2 linked regions of the Homo sapiens genome follow. The protein of the gene in region 2 purifies or fractionates together with the protein of the main gene of each other region. This does not show direct contact. Each region holds a gene or a part of one and is shown on either strand. Other genes may lie near its edges.

Region 1 (4,421 bases), on a different chromosome or scaffold from region 2:
GGGCCACGCTCAGGTACTCGTGGGTCAGCCTGTTGAGGAAAGGCAGGCCCAGCTCACCCGCCAGCCCCTGACACCTCAGGCTCTTGGCTTGCTGGGCCAGGCCTCCCGTTCTGTACAGGCTTAGCCCACAGGTATCGTCGTCGGCCAGTCCTCCTGCTAACCCCTGAGCGGGGAGACACACAGCCTGTGCTGAAGCTGTGGGTGCTACTGAGAGGGGAGGCAGCCTGCTCAGGTCACACAGCAGGGGCAAGGCCAGGGCTGGGCAGCTGAGCTCCCTCACCAGCCACCGAGCTGTTCACAGTCTTCCTGGCCCCCAGAAGCCCCCTCCGCTGGGCATAATTCCAGGCTTGTGGGCAGGGACAGGCTTACCGGGTGAGTTCCTGGAAAAGGTCTTTGCAGGGACCCTGCTCCAGCCGCTGGGTGCAGTTCGTCACCAGCTGCCGGGGGACCTCAGGGATGAGGTCAGGACCCTGGGAACAAGCCCCAGACAGGTCAGTGCAGGGGCTCCCTTGGATGGCTGCCCACTTCCAGGGGAGAGGGGTCAGGCAACTCGGGCTGGTGCCATGAGAGGCTGCAGGCCAGGGTGTGCCAGCCAGCCTGGTTGCTGAAGTCCTTCCTGCTGCCCACCCATGAGGCAGAGCGCAGCAGAGCCACTGGGAGGCCGCCTGGCCCAAGCCCAGCCCATACCCTGGGCTGCATGCCCGCCGTGCTGCCTGGAGCAGCTCCAGGGCACTCTCTGTCCAGGCTGTGTGTTACATGTGTCTGTATGAAGAGACCACCCTCAGAAGCCTGACACTGTGGTCACTCCTGTGCCTGACACGGGGCTCTGGTGGCTCCCATCATCTCTCCATCGCTGCTCACTCACCGTGTGGCTCAGAAAATTCTGCGTTAGCTGCCGCCCACATGCCTTCCGCTTGTCATCCGGGGTCACTTCATACTCGGCCTGCAGGGTGGAAAGCAAAGAAGCTGGAGGTCTGGGCAGGGCAAGCAGCAGGTGTGGGGAGGAGGGGCACATGGGGCCAGGACCTCGGCCACCCGCGGGGCTGGGCAGGGCTGGGCTGCACTCACCACCCCATCCAGGAAGGCGACGCAGCGGCTCAGCTCCGGCCTCGTGGCACAGAACTCTCGGAACAGCAGGCGCCCAATGGGCTGCCGCTCGCACAGGCTGTGATAGTCACGCTCTGTTGGCAGTGATGGAAGCTGCTGGGTCCACAGCCCGAGAGCACATGGGTGGGGCATGTGCCCACACCACCAGGCCCTGGGCCCCCACAACAGCTTCCAGCTCTGCAGTGTGGTAGCCACAATCTTCTTCAGAACCCTCACCACAACCCTCAGGTGGGCACAGCTGTTTTGGGGCTGTGAGGCCCAGAGAGGCTAACTGACTAGCTCAGTGTCACACAGCCGGGAGTCTGGCTCCAGAGCCCAGGCCTCCATCCACCTCCCTGCATTGTCTCCTGATTTACACGACTTGCGTATGTCACGGTACTGGGGTTGGGTGCGGTCCGTGAGGTTCCGGCCCAGCCCAGCCGGGGCCAGGCCCACACCTGCTGCCTGCCTGGCGAAAGTGCGAGAGGAAGCTGTGGCTTCCGGCAGGCTCTCAGCTGGGCCTCCTTCCCAGGAGGTGGAAGCAGCCCGGGTGTGCTCTGCGCACGTGCAGGCCACCGGGGGCCTCAGCAACCTTGGGTGCTGCTCAGACCTGGGGCCTTGGCCAAGATTGGCAGGAACTGGGGTCCTGGGCCCTTCTGTCCCCTCCCAGGAGTAACCCTGTCACACTGCCCAGGCTGAGGGCTTCTGGTCAAGGATTTGCTGGGCACCCCTCAGGGCTGGGCCTGGGAGGCTACGCCCCAGCCTGGGGGTCCCAAGGCAGTCAGTCTGTGGGCTGGCCCAGCTGCTGCTCCCTCTGTCCTGTGGGCCCTGCTCACCCTAGCTGGCTCTCCTTTTCAAAGTGGAATCAACTGCCCCAATCTGCCCCTGCCCTATTCCCGACACCCGCTTCAACCACCCTCGGTGTGACCCTGTTTGCTGTCTGCTCTCCACCCGTCCCAAGCCCAGGAACTGAAACTGGGCTGAATGGTGCAGTCCTCATCCTCCTGCTCACTGGAGCCCCCAAGTCTGCCCCTCTGCTCCGGGGCAAGGTCTCAGGGGAGGCTCCCCCGGCCCCAGCAGGGCCCCTCGCCTCAGCACCCCCAGTCTCTGCCCAGGCCTCACCGAGGCTGAGCCGCAGCTCTTCGCACTGGCTGATGTGAGGGAACTGGAGCATCTGCCGCCATTTCTTGCTTTTGCCTTTGCGATTTCCACCGCCACCTGTGGGAGCAATAGGACACTGGGTCTCGAGTCCCACTGCCTCAGAACTGCCTCTGGGTCCTCAGTGCGGTCCACGGCCTCTAGGGCCCAGCCAAGGCAGAGCTGAGGCAGAACAGCACCTCAGGCCTTCCCTCTGCACGCTCCAGCACGCCCTTGCTGCGTTCCAGGACACACGTGCTTCTCCTGCTTCAGGCTCCTGCACTGGGAGAGCCAAGAGAGGCAGTGAGGTCGCTGCGGGAGGACAGTGTTCCAAGTAGCTCCAACAATGGGTCCAGCCCCAGTTGCTTCCCGCCAGGTAGGAGTTCCCCCGGTGAAGAAAGGGGAGAAGGACGTCACAGTGCTGAGAAGTGCAGAAGGCCCGGGAGGGAGAGATTCTAGGCCAGTGGGGCAGGCCTGAGAGACGCACAGGGCAGCATGGGGACAAGGAGGCTCCCAGGCCTCTATCACCAGGCCCCACATCAGAGATATCAGACGCTCAAATGAGGCAGGGGCAAGGGGGCTGGCACCCAGGACTCCCCGTCCCCTGCACACTGGGGCTTCCCCGGTCCCCTGCCTGTCTTGCTTGACCTCGCAGACACCCCATCTGCAGCAGCTGAGGTCACAGCAGCAGTTCGATTGCCTGCAGAGCCCAACAGGTGTGGGAAACGTGGGCCAGATGTGAGATGACCAGGAACAGCGAAGGCCTCTCTGACAGGGCCAGCTGCAGGAGAACGCCAGCTGATTGCTTGATTGCTGCTAGGAGGGTTTCTGGCTCAATGTGGCCAGCTCTTCTGATTTTTTCAAAAGCAGCCGGAATTGCAGACTCTAACATAAAATATTGGCCCCCATTTTGTTTAAAAAAAAAAAAAAACTCACTGCAGCCAAATAAAATGTGTCAGGGAGCTAGCCAAATGTGTGTGGCCTGTGGGCCACCAGGTTGAGGAGGGTGGAAGGGGCCTGAGCCTCCCAGAGCTGGGTCTGAATCTCTGATTCACACTGTGGCCCATCACTCGCTATCTGTGAACCTCAGCTTCTCCATGTGTGTTACGTAGTGAATGGGAGACACTGTCCACATCAAGTAGGGCTGAGTCAAGAGGTGAACCCCAACTCCAACAACGCCATGGCAACCTTAGACAACCACTTTCTCATGCTGGGCCTCAGTTTCCCCTCTGGCTTTCTAGTCCTGTATCCATCTGGCCTGGGTGAGGGCAGGTGGTACAAGGGCAGAAGTTGCCTTCTAGGGAGGGGGCAAGGCTAGGTCCCTAGATGACTCCCCGACCTAAGCTGCCTGGAGAAGGAAGTACTGCAGGGGCCCATTGAGAAACTTGCTAGAGGCCTCCTGCGAACATGCCCTGCAGTCATTGCTTCACTGTGAGTGAGCAACAGACACCCACCCCTCAACCCAGGGCAAGGCCTTCCCAGAAGGGGAACTCCTCCCCCACACCCACAGGTCCCTCACCCAACCCTCCATCCGCCAGCCTCCCACCCTCAGTTACTTCCTCCTCCCCCCTCCCAGCCACATCAAGGCAGCAGCAAAGAGTCACATGCAAATATCCTGTCCTGGGCTGCCCAGTCAGTGGAGCTCTTCCCCACCCTCCCTGTCCCCTTTCAGTGTCCCTGGGCCCCCTCCCCATGCCTCTGAGTGCCTGGGAAGAGAAGGGGTACTGAGGGAGGTCTCAAGCCCCAGCGTTGTCCCACTCCATCCTCACAGCAACTCTGCCAGAGCAGGCCCAATTTTATATGAAAACTGAGATTCTGAAGTGAGGAATCAATTCACCCAAGATGACCAAGCCCAGAGTATACCCAAGATGACCAAGCCCAGAGACCAATCCTGGGTACAGGATTCGTACCCAGCTCCCTATGGCCACAACCCAAGCTCCTTTCCCACCCCAAACATGGCTGGCATCTATTAGGTGCCAACTGTATACACACACCAAGGGTTCCCAAACCCCACCTGGGGCCTCAGATCACTTGAGAAGCCGTCAGGGGCCCCAGCCTCAAGCTCATGAAAAGCCAGTTCATGAGGTGGTTCTGATGCAGCCCGTCCAGGCGCCTGGGCTCAGGACTCAGTGACAATCAGGGTTTCCTTTAGTCTTTATGTCCCACCCCCAACCGTTCCACAAAAAGGGGTACTGAAG
Region 2 (5,343 bases):
TTAGTAGTAAATGAAGGCACCACTCTCTGATATAGAAATTTAACAGAAATCCTGTTTTTGAATTGACAGATCTACTGCATTCTTTGCATATGTCCAACAGCATATTTCAAACAATGGGTTCTCTTTGTATTAAATTACTTTGACAAGTAAATAACTAAATTACTTTGACAAATAAATAACTAAAACTAAAACATTGTTTTCCCATTTGTAACATCGCTGAAATCTGCAAGAATCTGGCATGGTATAACCGATACCATTTTTCTTTTGTAATGCTACATATCATGATGGTGCATCCCACATCAATAACATCTTAGCATCAATAAAACATGATCTTTCCTAGCCATTTCTTAGAGAGAAAAAAATGAAACAAAACAAAATGAACCAAAAAACCTTCCTTGGTAGCAAAATAGTAATGTATTTCAAAGGATATAACTGAACACTTTAAATTGAGTAGTTGTTTAATCTTGCTTAGTCTTAACTATGCAAGTACTATGTATTCCAATACACATAGACACATCAAGTATAGTTAAGGACTCTTCTGATTTTCCTTCAAGACTTCTAACACTCACTTTCACAGGTTTTTAAGAATCAGCCTTGTCATCATTTTCACATTTGTTGTGCCTCTTTTTTTTTTTGATAAGATGGCATACATGCTATTAGTTTGCTGTTTGATGTCAGCCTCAATTCCTTCTCAGAAGGAAACTAAGAACAAAAATCACTTGGATTTTTTTTCTATTTCTTTTACATTCCCAGTCGCCTGAGAGATGGCACAACCATGTATAATAAACTAACTAGATTTTGTAGGTTTCTTTGTAACAAGTAAGAAGTTAGATGTTTTCAGTCAAGGGCCTTAGGACAGTCATACTGTGAATTTAACATAAAAGGCAAAAAGGAACACAAAAAAATTTTAAAAGGAAAACAATGAAGAGCAAAGAGAAAACAAACCCACCAGTAGTATTTTATTTCATGACACAATCTCTTCTGTCATCATGAATTTTAACACATGTACAGTTTGAGAAGAGATAGAAGTACAGAATTCCACCCTTAGCCTCAGTTTCTGTTACTTGTAGTCAATCAGGGCCCAAAAATATTAAATGGAAAATTCCAGAAATAAACAAGTTTTAAATTGTGGGCCGTTTTGAGTAGTGTGAGGAAATCTCATGCTGTCCTGCTCCATCCCACCTGGGATGAATCCATGCTGTCTACACTTCCTGCCTGTTAGTCACTTAATGGCCATCTCGATGATCAGACCAATGGTCACAGCATCTCAGTGCTTGCGTTCAAGTAACCCTTATTGTATTTAATAGTACTTTACTAATAATAACTTTGTTATTAGTGTTGTTAATCTCTTACTGTGTCTAATTCATGAATTAAACTTTATCATATATATTTATGTATAGAAGAAAACATAGTATTGTAGGGTTTGGTACTATCCGTGGTTTCAGGCATCCACTTGGGGTCTTGGAATGTATTCCCCTTGAAAAGGGGGACAACTACTGTAGGTTTATTTCACTTAATCTCATGATTTCTGGGCAGACTGTTAGCCAATGGAAGAAAGAAAAAAGGATTCTTATGTGCAGTACCTGATAGCCCAAATCATCACTAATGAGCAAAAGTAGTTCAAAAACAAAACAAGATTAAAAAGACCTAAAATGTCTTTCTAAAGGGTCTTTGCATTAATGTTCAAATTTCTTCTCCTGAAATACCAACCTGAAGATTGGTTAGTCTTTGACCTTTTATTTAAACTACTGCTTACTAGTTGTTTGAGGTATAATTTTGCCTTAGTCATTTATGAAACAGAAATAATTACCAGAATGTAGAAAGAACCCTAGTGACTAATTTCTTGGAAAACTTCTTGTTATAAAACATTAAAATATATTATTGTCCACATGCTTGAAAAGGAAACCAACCTAGAATCATATTTGTTCAACTCCTCAACAAAACATTTTCTGAAAACCACCTCCTCAAAAGACCAGCATCATTCTCATCAAGTTAACAGCCCATGGAAAGAATTTTATAAGTGAAACGTATGGGAAGACATTAAACATCCTGGAAAAAGTGCCACTTTACTTTAATTAAGGGGAAAGAAATGAAGTCCCAAAGCAAAAACTGTCAATTGCTGTCATCACTTTGTTGCACTGAAAGAGTTCAATTATACCACAAAGAATTTTAGAATGTACTAATTTAATTATAATGCGAAACCTTCCAACTACCTATAGCTTTGCCTAGTTCAGAAATTAGCAAGTTTTCTATTTAAATAAGATTACCTTCCCTATATCCACCAACCACATGCATGGTGTATATGAGTAGTACTATCGACATGTCTTTATTTTCTACTTCTCATTATTTTATCCTTCTCCTTTGTTCTTCCTTTCAAAATTATTTCACATTCTCATTTCAGATATCTGCACCCTTTAGTATAACACTTAGAAATCTGGATAAGATGATGGCCATCATGGAACATAATCACACTCTACATTGATGAATGGCTATTTACAAAATGATTTCTATCATTTAAAAGACAAAACGTCATTGAGCTTTTAAATTCCAAATAAAATACTACAACTTAAATGGCACTGACTAGCTATGAGCTTCTGGAAGTCACCCACCTGGGGCAGCATGCGATTTTCTTCCTCCAGCTGTCTTACTCTTGCCTCCAGCTGCCTAACATAGGACAAGGTTGATTCTAAAATTAAAAAGAAAGAACTCACATTATACACACAGGTCTTGTTTGGTGTACTGTCAGGATATTTCTGGCTTGATTTATTCAAATCAGACAGTGACTATTTAGTCTGTTATTTAAAATGAGAAAAAAAAATATCTCCCAGAAAAATAAGAACAGAAGCCACTGAAACTAAAAACAGTTTTGAACAATTTTACAACGTTAAGAAATATTAGATAAGACACAGACTGGCATATTTACAGGTGGTAGTACACACAATTGACGATTAGTATTAAGATTCTATACAGAACTCTTACAAACCAATAAGAAAACACAAGTAAAGGTATGGAAAATATTTGTCAGAAGTGGAAACACACTAGACAAATAAACCTAAGAGAAGCAGTCCAACATCATTATTAATTAGTAAAATCACGCACACTTAGAACAGGGCAAAACCAGAACTCAAACCTGAATCTAATACCGAAATCCAGTCTCTCCACTACTCTAAGCCCTTTTAGCTATTTTTAATCACTAAGAATTGAGACATTTCAGAGGAAGACTTTTAAAAATATTTCTGAAGTTTGATCCTCTTAAGATGGAACAAATATTTTTCTGAAGTCAAATCGTTTTCCACAAATCTTTCTTAAATGTTTAGTATTTCCTGTTCTGCAATAAAGTGTATTGAGGTCAATTTAAAAAAAAAAAAGTATTAGAGAAAATTATAGGTGGTGAGACTGCAGGCTTTTTGCACACCAACCAGCCTCAGAATAATAGGCATCTTGAAGACAATTATACTCTTTTCTTCTGATTTTGTACATTTTGAGTTGTCAATGAGTTGTTCTACATATACAAGACTATTTTGTAATGTTAACTATAACCAAAATAAACTACAAAGCTACATTAAAAAAAAAAACAGAAAATAAAACAAAATTTTTCAAACATCCAGTTCTCTTTATTTCTCCCAATAAAAATTTCAAGACTTAAGAAAAATATTTGTTCTTTTCACAAACTTACAGACATTGACAGAAAAAACATGAAAGAGCTATTTAGAGTTAGAATGAATTTTGACTGATTTTGGCTGACTGTGACAGAGACCCAAGTTTTTCACACATCTTTAGGTAAACCAGGAGCAGACCTGAAATTGACTATTTTTTTCATTTCTTCACAAGCTCAGGCATGAGCTGAAAGCTCAGAATCATTATCATGCTTAGCTTCTGTTCCATACTGAACTCTAAAGTTTATGGCTTTATGTCAGGAAAAGGGGTCACAGGTGAAGAAAAGTAAAATTTTATTTCTGGGAACAATCTGATAGTAACTCTTCTTCATTAAAGTGAAAATATTCAAGATCATCACATAGTAGCAATTCATTCATCACACAACAACAAAATATTTCAGGTGCAGTGAAAGGTACACAGCAATAGACTTTCTCCAGAGCACACTTCTGTTACATTAGGTAGCTAGTCAAACATGAGCAAGGCAGGAGAGGGCTCCCCGCAAGCCCACCCACCAAGAATGTCAGGCAACCATCACGGGATAGTCAGGTGGTTGTTAACTGTCTCTCTAAAATAATAATTAGTTGCAGTCAACCCAATAGATAGAAAAAACCTGGTACTGTTGATTACCACTTCCCCAGTAAGATCTCTGGAGTTGGGCGAGTGGTCTCAAGCGTGTGTACTAAGAGGAAAAATAGCAGTTTAATTGGTATATGATCTTCCTCTGGAAATGCGAGACGGCTAAGGGAAGAATGCCTCAAGTGAGCGTGCATACATCTTCAGTAAACACACTGCACATGCTCCCCTCCCAAGAGCTAGCAGGCCACTGCACATGTGGACAGTTCATCTCAAGGGAAGAATCAGTGTAGAAGGGACATGAAACCCCAGAAGTACGCCAATGTATAAAACCCAAGTCAAAAGGTCAAACAGTGCACTTGATCTCTCAAGTCACCCACCTGACCCTGACTCTCTTCCAAATGTACTTTACTTCCTTTCATTCCTGCTCTAAAGCTTTTTTTTTTTTTTTTTTTTTTGAGATGGAGTTTCACTGTTGTTGCCCAGGCTGGAGTGCAGTGGCGCGATCTCGGCTCACCACAACCTCCGCCTCCCAGGTTCAAGCGATTCTCCTGCCTCAGCCTCCCTAGCAGTTGGGATTACAGGCATGTGCCACCACGCCTGGCTATTTTTTGTATTTTTAGTAGAGACAGGGTTTCTCCATGTTGGTCAGGCTGGTCTCGAACTCCCGACCTCAAAAGATCCTCCCGCCTCGGCCTCCCAAAGTGCTGGGATTACAGGCATGAGCTACCACGCACAGCCATTCTAAAGCTTTTTAATAAACTTTCACTACTGCTCTAAAACTTGCCTCGGCTTCTTCTTCTGCTTTATGCCCCTCAGTCGAATTAGGGGCAAGAACTGGGGCTGCTGCAGACTCATATGGTTTCGCTACTGGTAACACTTCCATAGTTAATATTGAAGCAGAACAACCTCCTCAGTGTTCATGTTCTTCAGCCTCAGACACACAAAAAGGGCAAGAGGCAATACGGTAGTGCACCTAAGTGTTTGGAGCCCCTAAGGATCCACAGTTAGGATGGATATTGATGCCCTGATCTGAATTTCATCATGGAAACACAATTATTTTATGTGGAAATAGTTTATATGAACCCAATTCTATTTTTATGACCTCTAAAG

The links. The genes of interacting proteins can lie anywhere in the genome.
Region 1: the proteins of CCDC85A (region 2) and GRK6 purify together in Homo sapiens (affinity purification with mass spectrometry; one large-scale study listed by BioGRID and IntAct). This does not show direct contact.

Annotation. Positions count from the first base shown.
Region 1 is NC_000005.10:177,428,755-177,433,175, reverse strand, and holds part of GRK6 (G protein-coupled receptor kinase 6), read right to left. Parts: intron 2,305-4,421; coding exon 2,209-2,304; intron 1,466-2,208; exon of another isoform or gene 1,240-1,465; coding exon of another isoform or gene 1,182-1,239; coding exon 1,069-1,181; intron 944-1,068; coding exon 866-943; intron 471-865; coding exon 370-470; intron 30-369; coding exon 1-29.
Region 2 is NC_000002.12:56,340,222-56,345,564, reverse strand, and holds part of CCDC85A (coiled-coil domain-containing protein 85A), read right to left. Parts: intron 2,687-5,343; coding exon 2,610-2,686; intron 1-2,609. UniProt on the Homo sapiens protein: May play a role in cell-cell adhesion and epithelium development through its interaction with proteins of the beta-catenin family.